2 separate regions of the Homo sapiens genome follow, and region 2 is linked to region 1. Evidence: fine-mapped expression QTL. A gene starts in region 1. The other region holds a variant in brackets. All regions are shown on one strand. Distances are between the middles of the regions. Region 1 holds the start of QDPR (quinoid dihydropteridine reductase). Region 2 overlaps QDPR (quinoid dihydropteridine reductase).

The links. PIP is the estimated chance that this variant, and not a neighbour inherited with it, causes the effect.
Region 2: its variant is the best candidate, but not a certain one, in a credible set for the expression of QDPR in T cells (TOPMed, PIP 0.56).

Annotation. Positions count from the first base shown.
Region 1 is chr4:17,508,407-17,516,745 of GRCh38, reverse strand. It overlaps QDPR (quinoid dihydropteridine reductase), which reads left to right and starts at 4,656. Exons shown (of 7, transcript NM_000320.3): 1 at 4,656-4,796; 2 at 7,383-7,475. The coding sequence starts at 4,692. It overlaps CLRN2 (clarin 2), which reads right to left and starts at 1,581. Exons shown (of 3, transcript NM_001079827.2): 1 at 1,227-1,581. The coding sequence starts at 1,479. RefSeq lists a silencer at 4,448-5,027.
Region 2 is chr4:17,481,541-17,489,879 of GRCh38, reverse strand. It overlaps QDPR (quinoid dihydropteridine reductase), which reads left to right. Exons shown (of 7, transcript NM_000320.3): 7 at 2,644-3,485. The coding sequence ends at 2,749. Among named protein-coding and RNA genes, the nearest start is that of QDPR, 26 kb to the left of the region's middle. The variant T/A (reference allele first, on the strand shown) is at 3,790.

The DNA.
Region 1 (8,339 bases):
TTTTTATTTGTTTATGTGTGTGTGTTTTCAAGTTTTATGTTATAATTTTGATGGAGCTATTTGTTCAATATCCAGGGTCTAATCTAATTGCTAGGTAAATATAAATATGCCCAGACATATTGATCTTGAATATACATAACAAATGTAAATTTTTGTGTGTTTAAATGATGACAATTTGTATTATATTTGTCAACGGTTCCAGCTTTTTGTCCTTATAAATTTAATACGACATTTACCTTGGCCAGATTTCTATAAACTACTACAATACTGAAATATAGAAATCAAGGAATGAATACAATTCTGTATCACCCTACATTGGCATGGTATTGATTAATTACGGTTTTGTGCAGACACTTTTCACCAGTGATCTCATCGATTCAAAAGGCTTGCAGAATATTGCCTGTTTTGTTTTTTCCTTTCCAGAAGCCCGTTCCTAAGTCCAGCTTGGATTCCTGTTTGTGCAGACTGCTCTGCTTACATCCTGGGCAGCTCTGATGCTACACTGAATGCCAGCCAAAGTCGGTGCCCGCTCACGTTCACAGAGAACAGGCAAGTGCCTTGCTTGAGGTCTCCCCACCAGTAAACTTTCCAGTAGGGGTTTCAGCCAGGGTAGTCTGATTCCAGAACCCAAGCACAGTGCCCCTTTGCATTTTCTCAGACTATGAAGCTTTTACAAAAGTAGATGTGGAAAGGGTCATCATGCTTCCCAAAGGTTCAGTTCTGCAGGCAGCCTCCACCCACTTGTTGTGGTCATGTGGCATGGGTCTGGAGTCCGGCTCTACTGTTTCCTGGCTGGGTGACCTCAGGTAAGTTATGTAACCTCTCCAAGCCTCAGTGTACTCCTCTGGAAAATGGGAACATTAACAATTCCTTCTGTATAACTTTGTTGTAAGGCTTTAAGGAGACAAGTGGCGTGAGGTGCTTACAATGTCTGACACGTGTAAACTCTCAATATTTTAATAGTCATAATTAATAGAGGTAAACTGCAAAAATGCACAAATCCTTATTTCTAATGTTTCTATACATCTCTACAGAAAAAGAAAAGGAAGCAAGGAAGGAAGGAAAGATCTTTTTGATGTGGATCCAGAACCCTTGGCTCACTGTGGACTTTGACATTATGCCTGACGTTGAGGCAGCAGCCAAATTCCACAATGAGACATAAGCACTCTTACACATTAACAAAAATGAGTGCCTAGAATCAGCTTTCATGCTCCCAATATACTCACTCGTGAATTGGGATTGGCGGCCCCCAAGCCCACACTGCCGCACTTTACACCCTCGGAAGAGCCCGTAGTAAATGTCCCCAATGAACTTGACCAGCTCTCTGTCTGTGGCGTTGACCAGATCCACTCCAGTCTGACAAAGGATTTTCCCACTCAGCCAGTGGGGCACTACCAGGGCAACGATGATCAGGATGAAGGAGGAGAAGCTGAGTAAAGACGCCAGCCCATACCACGCCTTTTTGAACCATCCAGGCATGCTAGTGGGTGCAGGTCATCCCCAAGGTCTCCGAGCAGCAGCGAGGGTCATTGACATCTTTCAGATACTCGGCAATGCTCTGCTCCAAGGTCAGCTCTTCCAAACACTCTGTTTCAAGGTTGTAGGTCCATCCTCTCGTCCTCCTTCAGCGCAAGCTTGCACAGTCCATGCTTCCTACAACCACATCCAGAAGCCTCTACAGAGACAATCTTCACCTGACTATGTAGCGGAGTGTGTTACTGAAGGAAGTAACCTTATATCTCCTCCTAGACTAATGTTTCAGCAGACTGTTTAACTGTTCCTCGTTTCAAGTATTTAAATAGCCCTGGTGTGGACCTCGTAATGATAAAGGAGTTAGTAATAAGCAAAATCAGGTAGCTCTGAAGATTAAGAGACGCAAACCAATCTCAAAAAATGCATGTGTTAGAAGGAAAACAAAAACAGAATGATTAGCACTTGAATATTGCCAACAATGCGCAGTATCAAATGTCGATCTCGCTGATGCATGGGTGCCCTGGCATTTCTTTCTCTGAAATGTCACTGCTGTCAGAATCTTTAGGACTGTTATTAATACCATCAAATGACCCCGGTTCTTGGGGCTTTAATATTGAAATGTGTAAATAGGGCCTTATGAATTTCTCACTGTGTGAATCTGCTGGGGGTAAACTGTGACTAGAATTACTTTGTGGCTGTTGGGGTAGCCTGGAATCCAACACTTAACATTGCTCTCACCCGTCCCTCCTTCTACGTTATCTGAAATGGGAGAGAAAAGTGTTTTTCTAGTGTATTAGCAAATAGTAGCCACACTGCTGGGGTATTCATCTCTTCTAATAGTGGAAGATCTAGGCTTTCCTTTTAATCTGTAGATACTAGGAATGAAATATTCTTTCCTTTCTATCTTATACTGTGGACTTTGACATTTTGACTTTTACCTTATTCCTGAATATCAACTTAACATCATGTGAGACTGGCAACAGTCACTCTATCCATATCTCTGGGGAGCAAAGTTGGGCAAAAGTGGAGCAGTAAAATTTCTTAGTTGGTCACAGAAGCCTGAAGGGGGGTTCAGGAAGTTGCACTGTTAACCAATAGGGGTCCCAGGAATCTCACTTGGAGAGTGTCAAGGAAGCAGAGGGACACATTAATGGAAATGTCAGTTTCCTTCCTCGCAACTGGGGCTCACTTCAGTGGCCACTCCACAATGAAAATAAAAATGAGAATTTCTGAGCCTGGGCAATGTAGTGAGACCTTATCTCTACAAAAAATAAAAAAAAAAAATAGTTGGGCCTGATGGCGTGTATTTGTAGTCCCAGCTACTGGAGGCTGAGGCTGGAAGACTGCTCCAGCCCAGGAGCTCAAGGCTGTAGTGAGCTATGATCATGCCACTCTGAGTAACAGAGTGAGATCCTGTCTCTTACTATATATACAGATGAGTGGCACTTTACCATGTACAAAATGCAAAATGCTTTGACCATATGCTTGCTCACCTCTGATGCTCCAGCAACCCTTTAAGGTAAACAGGAGATGCACGATTTCAGCCATTTCTCTCATGAAAAACTGGATGTCAGTGCTGGGGCTGAAATTCAGGTCTTTGAATTACAACAGCTCATCTTCATCCCAGTGACTTTGAAACAGCAAATGTTTTTCTGGTAAAAAATAACAGAATACATATAAAAGGCTCAGAAGACTGCTTGGCACATTAAGTGATCAATAATGTTAGTTCACGTTCTTATTTTAACATTAAGCATGCTTTGACAAGTCAGGACTTGCGTAAATATCATTGAGTCATATTTCTGCCGTCAGTGAGGGACCTGTGTCAACTTTTGGTGTTTTGAGGGTTAAGCAATTGTTTTCAGAAAAACTCTAAGGGAAACACTTGATTCCCAACAAGCCTTTGTCTTGCTGAACAAAGGTGTGGTTAAGTGGAACTCTAGCTATTGAAGACCTGTGTTCAAATTCCCACTCTTCCAGACAAGTGTCTGTGACTCTCATGCCTCAGCTTTCTAATCTGCATAGGATTATCGTGTGGAGTAAAGTGAAATAGCACAGGCAGATCACTTAGCGCAGTGCCTTGGATATAAGGAGCACTAAATAGATGGTGCTCTCCTCTCCATCCAGCCTCCTAGCAGTTCTATTTCTGATAATGAAGCTTCTGACAACAAAATGTGCTGCTGGCTGCATCCTCTTCTCTAGTGACATATTTCTGCATGCTTTACCTGGCACAAGTTTACTGAACAAACATCTGTGTCTGCTGTGTACAAGGTTATATGTGGATGGGAAGTGACACAAAGATGTATGTAATACAGGGTTCTGCTATCAAGAAGGTTATGAGAGTGTTAGAGCTCTGGTTCTCTATCAGTGATGAATTTGCCCCTAGGAGACAACTGTTAAATCTGGAGATATTTTTGATTCTTATGAGTGAGGGGTAGGGGTTTGCTATTGATTTCTAGTATATGCAGGCCAGGGATGCTGTAAATATCCTACAGTACCCAGGGCAGCACCTGTCACAAATAATTATCTGGCCCAAAATGTCAGTAGTGCTGTAGATGAGAGGCTCTGTGTTAAAGATACAGGCCATGGGCAGAAATAACTAATATACAAGGGAGAAAATGCCAGGATCTGTGTCTGGCGATGGGTGGCATATAGTAAAAGGGCCATTTGGATTAATGGGTATAAATTTACGGTTAGATAGAAGAAATAAGACCTAGTGTGGTTTGTCTCGTCTCGGCGGTGGACTTTCAGCTCCTTGAGCGGAGCGACCTCTTCTGTTTTTTTGGCAGGTGGGAATACTTAAATCTCTATTTTGATGCACAATTAAAAATAAAAAATTGCCAAAACAGTGGTCGAAAATTGTACTATACTATATTTTACATGCTTACACTTCACAAATTAATGCTCGTAAAACACCCGCTCTCCACCCTCCTCGCCCTTAGCCCGGCTCGCTGCACGCCCCGAGGCCCAGCACTTGCTGGCGGGTGGGAGGAGGGGCTTCGCCGATGTCCCCGTCCCAGGGGCAGGGCCTGGCCGAAGTTACAGTCCCTCCGGGTGGCGGGGCGCCCCGAGCGTGGCAGCGCGCTAGGCGGCAGCAGCGGGCGCGGAGCGGGGCGCGGCCGCCGCGCGTTCCCTCTTGGCGGGGTTGGCCGGCCGGGGCGGGGCGCGGCGCTCCGGCTCGAGGCATTCGGAGCTGCGGGAGCCGGGCTGGCAGGAGCAGGATGGCGGCGGCGGCGGCTGCAGGCGAGGCGCGCCGGGTGCTGGTGTACGGCGGCAGGGGCGCTCTGGGTTCTCGATGCGTGCAGGCTTTTCGGGCCCGCAACTGGGTAATGCTGCGGGCTGGGGCTGCTGGGTCTCCGCGGGGGTGGCCGGGGGCTTTCGTGTGGAACCCGGCGGGGGGCAGTCTAGAGGAAGGTGGGGGCCCCTGTGCACCCCCTGACTCGTGTTGCTTGCACGTGCGCGCACAGGTCTACGCGTCTATTCCTGTTTCCGAGTGCGTGCGCACGCCAGTCCCAGGGCGCTGGGCCTTTGCTGTGCAAGGAGGTGCTCCGTGGGCCTCCGCCAGACCCAAAAAGTCCGGCGTGACTCGGGAGAGAATTCCAAAGGGGAGGAACGGGAGCAGGGGTGAGAGGACGGAGAGAGAGTGTAGAAGGAAGGCTCTAGAATGAGACAGCCCAGTCCCGGTTACTAGTCATGAGACCGCGTATTGATTACCTAACGCCGTAGGACCTCGGTTTCCCCATTTGTACAACGGAGATTCTGACAGTGAGAGTTGGGACGATTAGATGAGATAATTGGTGTCGTTGCACATAAATTACCTGACGCCTGGTAAAAACTGTTTAAATGCTGTCTATTAATGTTACTATTACTACCCACCCCTGTTCTTTTAGCCCCATTGGATCTGACAGTTTGAAGGCTCAGCACGGAAAAACGCTGACGGCTTCTTTGCTCTGCAAAGACTATTTCAACTACTTTGCATAGTCAGGTGTCAATTTCCAGGAGGCGGCAAGTCGGAGCAGAGCTGATACATGGCCAAAGACCCTTGACCTCAGCCGCTCAGCAGGCCTCAGCAATTTCCCGGTGGAGACACTGCCAGCGGCAGCGTTCTGGGAGCTTAGTTAGCAGCAGCAGCACAGCAGCCTGGGCAAGAGTTCCCCTGGGACCAGAAAAAGGCTTTCAGGATTTTCTTTAAAAAAAAACTATCTAATTTTTATAGATGAAGGGGGCAAAAGTACAGTTTAGTTACATGGATATGTTGTGTAGTGGTGAAGTCTGGGCTTTTAGTGTAACCATCACCCAAATAGTGTACATTTACCAAGGTTTTCTTGTTGCTCAGAATCTGGTACAGGAATATGCTTCTGAAGAATTCAGTCACACCACTCCCTTCCTGCCACCCATCTGCTCAGTGCTTGGGGACACTGATGAGGGCGCTTTCCCAGGTCTTCAGAGATGCATGGTGGTGACAGAGGCAGCACTTCTGCCAAGGGCCAGGCACTGTGTTCCCAGTACCAGAGTTCCCATAGACTCTTAATGCCCCCAATATCTTTAAGGCAGTAGATCCTGTTAGCGTCATGTGTTAGAGGGTGAAGGCTGTGCTTTCTCCTGGTGGTGGCACTTTGGTTTACCTTGGTCTTGGCAGAATCTGGAGAGCTGATTTACCTCTGGCTCTTGGTCTTTCCCCTCCGAGCTTCTTCCTGCCATCTTAGGGAGGGCTAGGATGATGGAGACTTTTCATTGTTTCAGTATCCCCCATGGGATAACAAGTTAATTAATAATATAACAAATGTTGATGAATAGATGCTGTGTTTACAGCTTAAGGTAGAGATAATTATCTCTGGGGACTTCAGACCAAGAGACCCTGAGTAAGGACTGAACATCCCCTGTGCCAGGAGCTTTAGCATCTTCCATTTCATTTAATTCTTACACTGACCCTGTTAATCATCAACAAACAACCTCTTTTGTTGGGAACCTCTGCCCGGCATCGGAGTGAGAAAGCCACTCTGGCAGAGCTGGGATTCAAACCTGATCTGTCTGATTTCCAATCCTAAAGTCCATCCCTCTCTGCTGCAGGACAGGGATCCTTTGTGAGCTGAATCTGGTCTGCCACCTGTTTTTGTACAGCCCAAGAGTTAAGAATAGTTTTACATTTTCAGGTGGTTGAAAAGAAAATCAAATGAAGAATTATATTTTGTTGTATATGAAAATTAATGAAATTCACATTTCAGCTCTGAAGATTTATTGGAACACAGCTGCACTTATTTTTTCCCCCTATTTATTGCTGTGTTCTGTTACAATTGCAGATTTGAGTAACAACAGATACCATATGGCCAGCAAAGCCTAAGGTAATTGTGATCTGGCCCTTTACAGAAAATTTGCTGGCCCTTGATGTCTCTAGAAGTGCAGGGTTTGTGTTTTAGAGGTGAATGTGGAGGCGGAGTAGAGTGTTTGGAGGTAGGAGGGCCTGGGATGGAGCCCAATATAGGGTGTGTTTTCATTGAAGCCTCTTACCTGTCTCCACTCTGCTCCTTTATTTTTCTTTCTTTTTCTTTTTCTTTTATTTAAATGGAGATAAGGCCTCCTTCTGTTGCCTAGCCCGGAGTACAGTGGTGCGATCATAGCTCACTGAGCTCAAGTGATCCTCTCGCCTCAACCTCCCGGGTAGCTGGGGCTACAGGCATGTGCCACCACACCTGACTAATTTTAAAATTTTTTTGTAGGGACTGGGTCTTGCTATGTTGCCCAGGCTGGTCTCAAACTCTTGGCCTCAAGAGATCCTCCCACATTGGCTCCCAAAGTGCTGGCATTACAGACGTGAACCACTACACCTGGCCAACTCCCCTCATTTCTATGTGTGACTCTTTCATGGAATAACAACTCACTGCCTCTTAACCAAAGCTGTTTTCTCCTTCCAGTGGGTTGCCAGCGTTGATGTGGTGGAGAATGAAGAGGCCAGCGCTAGCATCATTGTTAAAATGACAGACTCGTTCACTGAGCAGGCTGACCAGGTAGTTTCAAAAAGGCCCCCAAACATTGTGAGGGGAACCCTGGGGAGAGGTGACCACTGGCTGTATGTTCTTCCTTTGGCTGTATGTTCTTCCTTTTATTTCTTTTTTTCCCCGAGACGGAGTCTTGCTCTGTCGCCCAGGCTGGAGTGCAGTGGCATGATCTCCGTTCACTGCAACCTTTGCCTCCTGGGTTGAAGCAATTCTCCTGCCTCAGCCTCCTGAGTAGCTGGGATTACAGGTGCCTGCCACCACCCCCAGCTAATTTTTTGTATTTTCAGTAGAGACGGGGTTTCACCATGTTGGCCAGGCTGATCTTGAACTCCTGACCTTGTGATCCGCCCGCCTTAGCCTCCCAAAGTGCTCGGATTACAGGCATGAGCCACCGCGCCTGGCCTGTTCTTCCTTTTTTTTAAAGCTGTTGTTTCTCTAACTAGGAAAGCCATTTGTGTTCATTGAGGAAAATTTGGAAAAAGTGAAAAATGATACAAAGATAAATTATATAATCATTTTGAGTTAGTTCACTGTTAACATTTTGGCCTATTGTCTTTTTCTATGCATATTGTATGTTACTCCTTTTACAAGTTTAGGTAATTTTGTATTTTATAGTTTATGGTAAGCTTTGTTTTTTTTTTTTTTTATACTTAAATAATTCTCCAGATTACTGAAAAAACCTCTTTGTAGATGTGTGATATTCCATTTTATGGAATGGCCACAATTTATTTAGTTTGTTTATTGTACATTTGAGTTTTTTGCAGGATTTTTGTTTTACTATTGTCAAGAATGTTGTGATGAACGTCTTTGTCTACATATCTGATTATTATTGTTTTTTGTTTTAAGAGAGTCTTGCTCTACTGTTGACACTGG
Region 2 (8,339 bases), 27 kb after region 1:
CTCTGTGTAAACTGCTTTGACGACTGTTTATAAGAGATGTTTGTGAAGTTAGCAGTGTGCTTCTGGCCTGATGTCACAATCTCATTTAAATTAAATCGGGAGAAATTTGGGACTTGCGTTTTATGTTTGAAATGTGTACTTACAGAACACTTTTTATGTCCCAGTCACCATTCTAAGCACTTCATAACTCTTATTTAATGCTCATAGCAAACTCTGAGGGAGGAGCTGTCATTTTTATTTAAGGCTTAGAGACTTGGAGGGATGGCAGGGGCTAAGTCACTCGCCTAAGGTCACACAGCACAGCCGGGATCTGACACAAGTGGTGTGGCTGCAGAACCTATGGTCTTAACTGGTGTGCTGACAGTTATTTCTGTCTATGCCAGGAATCATGCTTCATGCTTGATTTGCAGGAAAAAAATTGAAGTTGTAGAGGAAATCAAGCTTTGAATTGTGTTTGTGTTTGAATTTCTTTTTAAAGGCCGACACTCCCACCACACTTGAGATACTGATCTAAGACCTACTCTAGATGGAACATCTGGGATCTTGTGTCTGAACTCGTGCTGAGCCACAGACCCACAGAGGACGGGCTGTCACAGGCCCCCTTTTGTTCTAGAGATCACATCCACCCATTTGTGGTATTTGAAAACTCTCAGAAAAGCTGGCATAAAGTTTGCTTTGAGATGTCTGTGAGCACATCCTTCCTCTACCATCCCTGGTTAGAATGGCGTTCTCACTCACCTATCCACGCTGCAGATGAGGGTGAAGAAGTAAAACCATTTAAAACATGCATCGCAGCAAACCAACATGGCACATGCATACCTGTGTAGCAAACCTGCACGCTGTGCACATGTAGCCTAGATCTTAAAGTATAAAAAAACAAAACAACAAAAAAACATGTGTAACCAACACACAAAACCCTACACAACCAAACGGCACTGGTCTCTTTCAGAGCCTTCCCTCACCAAGCCCTACCCTGTCCCCAGAGATGAGGCCATGACATGACAGTACTTTAGAGAGTTTTAGCAACGCTTTGTTTTTTGAGCCCATGTGCTCATATGAGCTTGTTCAAACCCCAGAGTAGGGGCCTGAATGACTGGACCTTTACACATCAGCGCTGGCCCAGAAGGTTACAGATTGGCACTGGGAGTCTCCCAGGAAGGAAATGCTGAGCACTTTTTAGTTAATGAAGGTCCGAAGTCTCAGCTGGTGAATTGTCAAAATGGATGATGTACTCAAATGTAAATGTTTTGTGTTAAAGAATTATCATCTACTTCTTGTTTCTTGTGAATTTCTTTTGCCCTTTTTCATTCCTGTCTTCTTAGAGGGTCTTTTTGACTGCTGCAAGTGGGGTCAGTTGCTCCTCTCCTCAGATTTGTGAAAGGCCCTGTTACTGTATTTAACATTTTATTGTAATAGTCTGTTTTTTTCTATCTCTTTTTCCATTGTTTGGTGCAGCTGTGGGTACTCTATAAATGTTTGATTAAAAAAATGCCAAATAAATGAATTGCATCTGTTTCTCTCATAAATTTATGAGAAGGTAATATAGCAAAGTATTGTGCATGTGTCTCTCTCTTTGAATGAACTAATTAAAATCTTTAAAAACAATTTTTTTTTTTTTTGAGACAGGGTCTCACTGGGTCACCCAGGCTGGAGTGCAGTGTCACGATCATGGCTTACCCTAGCCTTGATCTCCGGGGCTCAAGCAATCATCCCACCACAGCCTCCTGAGTAGCTGGGACTACAGGCATGTGCCATGCCCAGCTATTTTTTGTATTTTTTTAGAGGTAGGGTTTCACCCAGTTGCCCAGGCTGGTCTCAAAAACTCCTGGGCTCAAGTGATCCACCTGCCTCAGCCTCCCAAATTGCTGAGATTACAGGTGTGAGCCACCACGCCTGGCCAAATTAGAATCTTTTAAAATCACAAAAGAATTCCAACAATGTAGAAAAATACCAAAATGAAAGTTAAACTTATGCCAAATCCTGCCACTCAGAGATTAGAATGAGTACACCACTGAACTCACTGGGGGCCTGGGTATGTGTCCATCATGCCTACTGGCTTTTATTAATTTTTTATTATTTTTTGGAGATGGAATCTTGCCATTGTGTCCAGGCTGGCCTCAAACACCTGGGCTCAAGCGATCCGCCCGCCTTGGCATCTCAAAGTGCTGGGATCATAGGGGTGAGCCATAATGCCTGACCTTTAGTGGCTTTTATTTATTTATTTATTTATTATTTTTTGTGAGACGGAGTCTCATTGTGATGCCCAGGCTGGAGTGCAATGGTGCAACCTCGGCTTACCTCTGCTTCCCGGGTGCAAGTGATTCTACTTCCTCAGCCTCCTGAGTAGCTAGGATTACAGGCACGTGCTACCACGGCCAATTTTTGTATTTTTAGTAGAGATGGGGTTTCATCATATTGGCCAGGCTGGTCTCGAACTCCTGACCTCAAGCGATCTGCCCGCCTCGGCCTCCCAAAGTGCTGGGATCACAGGTGTGAGCCATGGCGCCCAGCCCTTAGTGGCTTTTAAACAGTCGCTGCTGTGCCACCCCTTCCCCCCACCCCACAAGCCGTCACTGTGAAGGTCAGCATGTGCCCAGATTTTTGCTTTGAGAATATAAAAAAAACTTTTATTTTCTGTTCCAGAACTTTCCATGACTGGATCACAGGGAAAAACCGACCGAGCTCAGGAAGCCTAATCCAGGTGGTAACCACAGAAGGAAGGACGGAACTCACCCCAGCATATTTTTAGGCCTCATCTCAGTGCCTATGAGGGGCCTGCCAGAAAAGTCACTAACCTGTCTCAGTGTGGCCTTGTCCAGCCTTGTGTTTTCTGTAACCCCTGTTTGTGGTACGAGATAATGAGTCCTATTTTTCTCTCACATAATATGCATTTGCTCTCCTAGGACAGTGTAATACATTTATGTGAAGTAAAGACATGCGAGACTGGTGGCCTGCAAATAGCATCCGTTGATCTGTGTTAACTGCATAGGGAGGGCTCTGCATAGCACCTGCTATAGCGGTGTCATGTTGGATCGCTTTTGTGACTGTTCATCTGTCCTTGACAGTGGCTGTCATCTTGACTACTTTGTTGATTTGTTGGTATTGGGGACATTTTAAAGGCTGAGTTATTTTTGAATGTCATGTTTATGTCATAGACGTAGTTTTCGCATCCTTGAATTAAACTGCCTTAACTCCTTTTGTGGTATAAGCAAAACTACATGGACTCTGTCCTGGTATCCTTTTCCTGTGTGGTTGCCCCGTGTCCTCTGGCCTAGGGTTAAGTGTGCAAGATAACTACTCGTGAGTATTCAGAATGTTGTTCCTAATAAATGCACTTGTTGTCTGTCTTCTTTAATCAAATCACATCTTATATACAGCAGTCAGAGATGAGTATACTAGAATCATGGATTGCTGGAGGTCTTTTAATCTGATGTTCTCAGAAGGGGGTGGATTTAAATCCTGAAATAAATATTTCAACACAAGAACACAGGCCTGATTCTGCCTTGGACATGTCAAAATCTGGGGGTGATGGGATGGCCCTGTGCATTTAGAAGCAGCTCTCCACATATGGCCAATGTAGGCTGTCCTGGTTGAGAACTAGTAGTGGTTTAATCCAACCCGATCATTTTACAGATGAGGAAACTGAGGCCCAGAGAGACATTACCTTGTTGCCAGTAACTGGCAGAGCTAAGCCCAGATCTCTAGTCACCAGACAGTTGCTGTTTTTAAAGGCCTTTACCACGTATTTTCTTTCTTTTTTTAGTGAGGTGAAATTCACATAATTTTTTT[T/A]TTTTTTTTTTGAGACAGAGTCTTACCCTGTCGCCCAGGCTGGAGTGCAGTGGCGCCATCTCGGTTCACTGCAAGCTCCGCCTCCTGGGTTCACACCATTCTCCTGCCTCAGCCTCCCGAGTAGCTGGGACTACAGGCGCCCACCACCACACCCGGCTAAGTTTTTTTGTATTTTTAGTAGAGACGGGGTTTCACCGTGTTAGCCAGGATGGTCTTGATCTCCTGACCTTGTGATCTGCCCACCTCGGCCTCCCAAAGTGCTGGGATTACAGGTGTGAACCACTGCACCCGGCCAAAATTAGCCATTTTAAGGCTAATTTTAAGTATTAAAAGTTAAGTAGGTGAGCAGTTCAGTGGCATTTAGCACATTTACAGTAGTGCATAATCACCACCTCTGTCTAGTTCCCAAACATTTCCATCACCCCAAAAGAAAAACCAGAGCTCTTTAAGCAGTTCCTCCCCATTCCTGCTCCCTAACCCCTGCAACCACCAATCTTCATTTTGTTTCTGTGAATTAATTCTGGGTATTACTATTTTTTTGAGACAGTCTTGCTCTTACCCAGGCTGAAGTACAGTGGCATGAACATGGCTCACTGCAGCCTCGATTTCCTGGGCTCAAGCAATCTTCCCACCTTGGCCTCTCGAGGAGCTGAGACTACAGGCACGTGCTGCCACACCCAGATATTTTTTAAAGTTTTTTGTAGAGACAGGTCTTGCTATGTTGCCCGGGCTGGTCTCAAACTCCTGGACTCAAGCAGTCCTCCTGCCTTGTCTTCCCAAAGTGCTGGTATTACAGGCGTGAGCCATTGCACCTGGCCTGTTCTGGGTATTTTGTATAAATGGAATCAGTATGTGACCTTTTGTATCTGGCTGCTTCTACCTAGCTTTATGTTTTCCATGTTCTTCCCCATTGCATCATGTATCAGTACTTTCTTTCTTTTTGTGGCATAATATTCCATTATATGTATCCACTGCAATTTTGTTTACTGATCTGTTGATAGACATTTGGGCTGTTTCCACCTTTTGGCTGTTGTGAGCATTGCCGCTGTGAACATTCATGTATAAGTGTTTGTGTATCTGTTTTCAATGATTTTGGATATATACCTAGGAGCAGGATTGTTCGACCATATGGTAATTTTTGTGTTTATCTTTTTTTTTTTTTTGAGATGGAGTCTTGCTCTGTTGCCCAGGCTGGAGTGCAGTGGTGCGATCTCAGCACACTGTAACCTCTACCTCCCAGGTTCATGTGATTCTCCTGCCTCAGCCTCCCGAGTAGCTAGGACTACAGGTGTCCACCACCACACCTGGCTATTTTTTTTTTTTTTTTTTGTATTTTTAGTAGAGATGGAAGAGACAGAGTTTCACCATGTTGGCCAGGCAGGTTTCAAACTCCAGACCTCAAGTGATCCACCTGCCTCGGCCTCCCAAAGTGCTTAGAATTACAGCTGTGAGCCACTGCGCCTGGCCTCTATGTTTAACTTTTGAGAAGTCTCTTGATTCTTGCCACTACGAGGTGATTTTATCCAACTATTACAGGAAAGAAAATGGGAGCTCAGAAGGTTGGACTGCTTGTTCAAAGTCACCTAGCTAGAGAGCTGCGCAGCTGGAACTAGTATACAAGTCTAGCTGTTGAAAGCACCCTGAGCACATTACCTCATGCTGTACCTTGCATGTCTTGTTGTTTTCAATTTTCAGATGAAGAAACAGTTCCACACACTAAGAGACTTAACGAGGGTACAGTTAGTTTCAGGAGAGCTGGTAGTTTTCATTCCGTTTAGAACCGGACCTGGTAACTGTTGATTATCCTAATAAATGCACTTCATTTATCGTGTTGCCTTTTTATTTTGAGACAGAGTCTCGCTCTGTCACCCAGGCTGGAGTGCGGTGGCATGACGTCGGCTCACTGCAACCTCCGCCTGCCTGGTTCAAGCGATTCTTCTGCCTCAGCCTCCCGAGTAGCTGGGACTACAGGCGTGCACCACTACACCCAGCTAATTTTTATATTTTTAGTAGAGACGGGGTTTCACCACTTTGGCCAGGATGGTCTCAATCTCTTGACCTCGTGATCCGCCTGCCTCGGCCTCCCAAAGTGCTGGGATTCACAGGCGTGAGTCACCGTGCCTGGCCTGTCTCTTTAATCAAATCACATCTCATATCCAGCAGTCATAGATGAGTATGCTAGAATCATGGACTGCTTGGAAGTCTTTTAATCTGGTGTTTACCTACTCATCCGTTGGTGGAAATTTGGGCTGCTTATTAATTATTAATTATTTTTAATTATTGAATACCAGATCTGGTTTCTAAATGGAATGAAGACTACCAGCTCTCCTCAAACTAATTGATTATTGAGGTGTGTTTCTTTTCCTTCCCTGGTGATGTGCAAAGAGAATGAAAAGGGAAAAGGGGCCAGGAAGGAGATGTTTTTTCTCCTTCATTCATTCAACAGCTAATCTTGAGTACCAACTGTGTACAAGGCACTAACCTAGATGCCTGGGACACATAAAGAACAAGTAGACAAAGACTCCTACCCTTAATCATTGAGTTTTATTCTAGATGGGGGAGAGGGTGACAGATAATAAACAATAGAATTCATAATATGAATTCATTGGAGAGTACGAGAAAGGTGAACTGTGGGGGGAAGAGAGCAAGGTAAGGGGGTGAAGGAGTGTTGGGGAGATTGGGATTGCAATTTCAGAAATGGTAGTGTTATGAACTGAATGTGGGTGTCTCCCCCAAATTTGTATGTTCAAGACCTCACTCTAATGTGGCTGTATTTGGAGATGGGGCCTCTAAGGAAGTAACTAAGATGAAATGGGTTCGTGAGGATGGGCACTGATTCAACAGGATTAGTGTTCTTATGAGGACAGACACCAGAGTTCTCCCTCTCACTTTCTTCCCACACGCATGCACTGAGGAAAGTCTGTGTGAGGACACAGCAAGGAGGCTGCCGTCCACAAGCTGAGAAGAGAGCCCTCACAAGAGATGGAATTGACTGGAGCCTCAGTCTTGGACTTTCAGCCTCCAGAACAGAGAAAATAAATGTGTGATGTTAAGCCACCCACTCTGTGGTGTTTTGTTATGGCAGCCCACACTAATACAGGCAGTGATGGAATATCTCGTGAGGAAGTGACGTTTGAACACATCTGAAAGAAAGTGTAGAAGGCAGCCAAGGGCATCTGAGGTAAGGACATTTTAAGACAGAGGAACCAGTCATTGCAAAGAGCCTGAGGCAGTAGTGTACCAGGTGGGGTGAGGAACACAGGGAGGCTGGGTTGGCTGGGGCAGAGAATGGAGCAAACAGAGGGGCAGTTTCAGGAGATAAGATCAGACAGATGATTGTGTAGGGTAGGGGTCCCCCAATTTTCTAGGCCCACAGTGCCCTTAGTGTCTCAGTAATTTTTTACAATGCCCCTACATCAAAGAAACTAACTAATGATTTGGATTTACAAGTGGTTGGGTTCTAACAATTTTATAGTAGTAATATGACTGATATTGCTCTATGACCTAGAACATGGAAAGTACCCTGTAGAGTCCCTGTGAATGCTGCCTTGGAGTGCCTTGGTGCACAGTTTGGGAATAGCAAATGTAAGGGGGTGTTGGGCATTTTAAGGATTTGGTTTTGGATTTTGGGAACTACCGCAAGGATTTTGAGCGAAAGAGTGGCATGATATATTTTAAAAGATTGCTCTGGCTGTTGTGTTGAGGATAGTACTGAGGTTTTTGCAAGAATCCAGGCAAGAAATGACAGTGGTTAGGGTGGTAGCAGTGGAGGTCGTGAGAGGAGAATTGGGAAATGGTGGATATTTTGAAGACAGATTCAAGAGGATTTCCTGGTGGATTTAATGTGACGGTAAGAGAGAAAAGAGTCAGTGATGTCTCCCAAAGTTTTTCACGTGAGCAAATGGATTAAGTTAGCAAGTGTGATAGAGAAGGCTGTGGATAGAGCAAGTATTGGGAGTATCTGGAGTGTTGTTTTGGACATAGAGGTTTACTCTATTAATACCCCAGTGGAGATGTTAAGTGGGCAGTTGTATTAAGTCTGGTGTTTGAGAGAGAGAGAGATCTAGGGGTCCTGAGAGATCTGGGGGTCCTAAGCAGTTAAAGTTATGAGACTAGGTGAGATCACTAAGGGAATGTGTTGGCCAGGGTCCAGAAGACAGAAGCCATGCAGTATTGTGAATGAGGTCAGTGTAATATAAAGAATTATCGAGTAGCAAAGATTAATTCTAAAAGGCTAATGAGAACTCTGAAGAATATTCTTGTGCCGAGGGACAGCACTTGAGGAACAAATTTGGAAGACAAGTCCCTCCCCAAGGCTGGGACCTGAGCTTCATTGGAGAAGGTATGGCGGTGGACATAGAGTAGGACATAGAGAGGTGGACATGGAGAAGTTATGGCACTGGACAGCAGAGTTTGTTGGGTTCCCTGGGCCTGTGTTGGTCTACAGCCACTGGGGAAGCAGGAAGCACCCTGCCAGGGTGCATGAAGTGCTGCTGGATGTCCCTCACATGTACATGGTAACCATGTGGCAGGAACCATATGGAAGCACA